Regions from separate parts of the Homo sapiens genome. Here region 1 is linked to region 2. Evidence: fine-mapped expression QTL. Tissue or cell type: whole blood. Region 2 holds a variant in brackets; the other region holds the start of a gene. All regions are shown on one strand. Distances are between the middles of the regions.

Region 1 (2,701 bases), 92 kb after region 2:
ATGTGAAACGCTATATACTAAATTACAGAACCTGAGTCACCCTGAAATGTGAAATGCTATATACTAAATTATAGAACCGAGGATGGAACCTGGCTCGTCAAGGAGTACTCCAAGCTCATGCACTCAGGCCCACCACAACTGTATTACTACCTACTGAAGAAAAACCTTCCACGGTTTCTGTGTGACACGTTTCAAATCCTACTTTTAGAAAATCTTCTAACTTCTTGGCTGAATGTCCATGCTTGATCTTAACTCGGAATCTAACAGGGAAGGAAGCAAGGGTTCGTTGACAAGGAAAAACTGGCCTAGATCTCAGTCGGGGGAACTTTATGGACGCCTTCTGCAGCAAAGCTAAGGAAAATGAAAATCGCTAAAAATGTAAGAACGACGACATTAAGTAGAAGGGTAAAAAAAAAGTTTCAGAGGAATAAAATAACATTTTCTAGGATACAAATTAAGGCATTTAAAAGTTCTTGTTCCATTTGTGGCTATGTCTCATAAAAGCTGTGTCGCACCAAGCAGCAGTTCAGGGTGTAACTTATCCTTCCTAATCAAAGATGACACCGATAGTCTTATTTCCTGTGGGGATGGGTGTGATTGAAGACACAGTTACGTCCATGCCATCAATCTGTGTGTGGAAAAGTCGGCAGGTCGCGCGCACACACTTGTCGCTTGAATCGTATGTGTGCCTGCAGACGGCAAGGCCTATGCCTCTGACTGCGTTCACCTGAAATAAAATACCCAACCGGCAATACAGTAGTATATGGTTATTTTCACTGCTCAAAGAAACAGTGGCACTCCTCAGTGTTTCAGCTTAAGGAAAACCTCCCAGGAGGGAGCAACTCGGAACAATGCTGCAACTAGCAAATCCAAACGCAGTCGGGATACTGGGGCGAGGGGCTTACATTCTCCAAGCACCATTTACTCACCCCTTTGAGACGACTACAACGCAAAGTGAGGAAATGAAACGAAAAAGCTGGTCCAAAATTCGGCACTGCGAGCGCCGCGGGTCTGGCTTCGGGAACTAGTTTGGGAGACCCGGGAACGGATCGCCTCCGATGGGCCGGGCGCGGTGGTCTCCAGCGGAGCGCGAACCCAAGTTGCCCTCCGCGCGGACGCCGGAACTTGGCCCCTCTGGCGGCTGCGGCGGCGCCCCCGCTCCCCCTCAGCCGCCCACCTCCCGCCGCGCGCTCCCCCAACTTCCCGCCCAGCGCGGCTGACACCGCCCAGCCCGGCGCGGGGTCCGAGTCCTGTCGCCGCCGCCGCCGCGTGCAGTTGGGGGGTTGGGGGTTTGGGGGATGGGGGAGGGGCCGCCGCCGCCTCAGCCCGACGGGCCGGGAGAACAAAGCGGCGGCGGCGGCGGCGCGAACTTTTTCGGTGTCTGTTCAGCGCTCCCCGAGGCGACTACTTACAGTGGCAGGCTCGGCCCGTCGTGAGAAACTGCGCCCGCCAGCGTCTGAGTACCGGACGAGGCGCCAGCGAGGCTTCACGCGCCTCGCAGGATCCCGCCCGCCTCCGGCGCCCCTTCCTCCCTCCCTCCCCGTCCCGTCCTGGGGCCGGAGGGCGGGGGGCCGGGGCGCGCGGGGGGCGGGGGCGCGCGGCCAGCGCGGGGCCTGCCGGGAGCTGTAGTTCCTCGGCCCGCGCCCGCCGGGAGGTGGCCGCGGCGGGAGGTCGGGGTTGTCTCTGCCCCGCGAAGGGGCGCCGGGAGCGCCGGGTACAGTCGGGCTGGCTCCGCACCCTCGAGTTCCGGGCGTCTTCGTGAGCGCGGGGGCACGGGGCAGGGGCGCCGCGGGAGTCGCGAGCGTGTCTATCAGTTACACGCGGTACTTGATCGCGCTGTTGCCGACGGTACTGTCTTTTCCTCTACTGCCGTGCACTCTTGAGGGAGGCGGTGGCGACAATGGGCCAGAGGTGATAGTTGGAACGGGGGACTTGTAAGGCGTCCAGAGCAGAGAGCTGCTTCCACCCTGAGATGTCACAGCCCTCCCGCATGCTCCTCCCTGCTGCCTGCCCCCGGGGTGGCCGCCGGCACCGCAGCTCGGCGCCCAAACCGGCACGTCCCAAGCCCGACGTTCCGGTGACTGCAGGGGTTTTCCCGGTGCTCGGTGTTTCCTCCCCGTCGGCCTTTAAACGCGAATGTGACCCTACCACCAAAGTGGAGTGCAGTCCAGAATCACCAAACCTGGGCTTCCAGGTGTCTGGAAACACAATGTTAACATTTGTTTTGCTCCAAAACAAAGTATGACCGTGTCGGGTGAGTGGGGCGGGAGTGGGAGTCAGCAGCATAAGGATCTAGAGGGAAAATACACTGTGCATAAATTTTCGATGTCTTATGTGAGAGAAAGGCCTGAGAAGCTGACAGGCATTGTCACAGAAGCCACATGATTCTCCTTATGTCAACATTTTATCCCAAAAGTACTTAAATATATTGAAACAATCAGAGGGACTACAATCAAGAGGGCAGTTTTCTTTCTTCTCTCTTTTTCTTTCTTTTCCCCTTTCTCTCTTTCTTCTTTCTCTCTAGAAAAGGTTTTACTCTGTCATCCAGGCTGAAGTGCAGTGACACGATCATAGCTCACTGCAGCCTGGAGCTGCTGGGCTCAAGTGATTATCCTGCGTCAGCCTCCCAAGCAGCTGGGACTACAGGCGTGTGCCACCACGCCCCACTAACTTTTAAGTTAGTTTTTGTAGAGACGAGGTC
Region 2 (2,610 bases):
GCTCCTGGCGGAGCGAGCTAGCCTGCGAATTTCAGCATGAGTGTACTGCTGAGGTCAGGTTTGGGGCCGTTGTGTGCCGTGGCGCGCGCAGGTAAGCGTCAGTCCCCTCGAAGCCCGGTTGCCGTGGAAGCCGCGTGGGGCGCCTTCCTCAGCTCTTCAGTTGAGGGTACCGGGGGATCAAGGGCTCGGGGGCTCACTTCCACCTTGAAGGTACCCTGGGCTGGAAACGGGTCCGGTACAAACGCAATAGGGCTGCGTAGTCGTGGGCAAGTGGGTGCTGTCTCTGCGCCCCGTGGGCGTGCTAAGCACAGTAGCCCGCGGTCTGCGGTGGGGCGAGGTTAAGGGTTCACGAAGCTGTTTTGAAAACGCTCAGGCGGCTTGCGCTCGTGAATGGTCAGATTTATCATGGGGTCTGTTTAATTTGTGTTTTTCGCAGCCATTCCTTTTATTTGGAGAGGGAAATACTTCAGCTCCGGGAATGAGCCTGCAGAAAACCCGGTGACGCCGATGCTGCGGCATCTTATGTACAAAATAAAGTCTACTGGTCCCATCACTGTGGCCGAGTACATGAAGGAGGTGTTGACTAATCCAGCCAAGGTATGGGTCGGGTAGCCCGAGGACTAGGCCCTCTCTAGCCGATTTGCGAGGTGCAAGCCAGGAGGGAGAAGCCCGAAGGTTCTCAGCCCAGGCAGTGGGGGTGCCTGCCAGGGGAAGAGCCATTTCTGAGGACCTGGGGACAGATAATTTGTCAGTTGGTCAGGGCTGGCTCACGTCAGAGGCAGTGCCAGTAAAGAGGAGAGGACACGGTCCAAGGGTGTTTAGGAGACAGAATGTAGCTGATTGGATTTATGATGCGGGAAGGATGACTTTCCTACTTGGCTGATGGTGGGTGGTGTGGATTCATTGCTTTGGGAGAAGGAATACGGGAGGAAGGATGGAGAGTTCAGGCTGGTATATGAATTTGAAGTGTGTGGGACTCTTAGGTAGAAATCTCCAACAGGCAGCTGGAAATAGGAATTACTGCCTGGAAAGTCGTCTGTGTTGGAATGGCTTCAGCTGGCATTGGAGACATGTGCTGGGTTTTCTCACATGTGCAGTTGAGAATGCAGTCTGGGTCGTCTTCACTGTTCTAGGATTAGGCACAGTCACAGCTTTCTGACCCACGTTTCCTTGTCTGTTCTACAGAGCCATTTGGTGAAAGCCTATAGTCCTTTATTTTAGAATATTTCATCTTTTGCTGGGTTGAAATATGACCTCTGTGGAATTCTGGGGTTAG[A/T]TTGGCCATTGTTGTTGGATATGGTAGTGTGACTCTAGTGTCGAGGTTTACCCAAGGCCGGTATCTTTCTTTCGATGCCGGTTAGGCAGGGCTGCAAGATAGGTGGCTTAGACTAGTGTGGTGGTACTAGAAATAGAAGAGGGTGATTTAGAAAGGGACTGACAGGATTTGCCGATGGATTGAGTGATGGAACGGAGGAATCAAGGCTGATTCGTACTTTTAGCTTGAGCAGTTGGGTGATGATGGTACCTTTTATTGAGATTAAGACAGACAGGACCAGGTTTGGAGGAGTACTAGGGAGAGGGCCTACACCAGGAGCTGCATTTTATACATATTTTGTTAGCAGTGACATGCAGGTGGAGATAGAAAGTAGGCAATTCGCTGTAAGAGTCTGGCGTTCAGGGCCGGACGTGGCGGCTCACGCCTGTAATCCCAGCACTTTGGGAGGCCAAGGCGGGTGGATCACGAGGTCAGGAGTTTGAGACCAGCCTGACCAACTTGGTGAAACCCCGTCTCTATTAAAAATACAAAAATTAGCCGGGCGTGGTGGCTTGTGCCTGTAATCCCAGCTAGTCAGGAGGCAGGAGAATCGCTTGAACCCGGGACGCAGAGGTTGCAGTGAGCCTAGATTTCGCCATTGCACTCCAGCCTGGGCAACAGAGCGAGACTCTGTCTCAAAAAAAAAAAAAAAAAAAGTGAGCCTGGTGTTCAGAAGAAAGACTGGGCAGGCATATATACATTTGCTCGTCATCAGCATATAGGTCATATTTAAAGCCAAGGAACCAGGGAGAACATACTGAGAGAAAGGAAGGTTTCCCAGCATTGAGAGTAGGGGTAACTCTAAAATGTAGAGGCTCTTAACCTAGGGACCCTTTAATAGAAATCAGGGGTTTCATGAAGCTGGATGGAAAAAATATTATACCTTTATTTTCACTAACTTTCAACTGAAATTTAGCATTTCTTCAATTATGAACATACGCAGCAACTAGTAGCATCAGCAATACCTGTGACTTTGTCATCTGTGGAAATCATTGGTATTTCCTTATCACAATACAGTGATCACAGGCATCTCAGGATTTCATCGTGCTCATCCTTACTTCAAAATTTTGTTAATTATTGGGTCTTTGGCTTGATTATGGGCTTTTTTGTTTGTTGGCTTTTTGAGATAGAGTCTCATTCTGTCACCCAGGCTGGAGTGCAGTAGTGCAATCTTGGCTCACTGCAACCTCCACCTTCAAGGTTCAAAGGATTCTTGTGCCTCAGCCTCCCGAGTAGTTGGGATTACAGGTGTATGTTTCCATGCCCAGCTAGGTTTTTTGTATTTTCAATGGAGA

Evidence for each region. PIP is the estimated chance that this variant, and not a neighbour inherited with it, causes the effect.
Region 1: PRKD3 starts here. The variant in region 2 is fine-mapped to the expression of PRKD3 in whole blood (TOPMed, PIP 0.97).

The regions. Positions count from the first base shown.
Region 1 is chr2:37,323,269-37,325,969 of GRCh38, forward strand. It overlaps PRKD3 (protein kinase D3), which reads right to left and starts at 1,565. Exons shown (of 19, transcript NM_005813.6): 1 at 1,413-1,565. PRKD3-DT (PRKD3 divergent transcript) reads left to right here and starts at 1,813. Exons shown (of 2, transcript NR_183394.1): 1 at 1,813-2,254. RefSeq lists an enhancer at 576-655 and a silencer at 1,296-1,925.
Region 2 is chr2:37,231,670-37,234,279 of GRCh38, forward strand. It overlaps NDUFAF7 (NADH:ubiquinone oxidoreductase complex assembly factor 7), which reads left to right. Exons shown (of 10, transcript NM_144736.5): 1 at 1-91; 2 at 437-597. The coding sequence starts at 37. Among named protein-coding and RNA genes, the nearest start is that of NDUFAF7, 1.3 kb to the left of the region's middle. RefSeq lists an enhancer at 1-471. The variant A/T (reference allele first, on the strand shown) is at 1,277.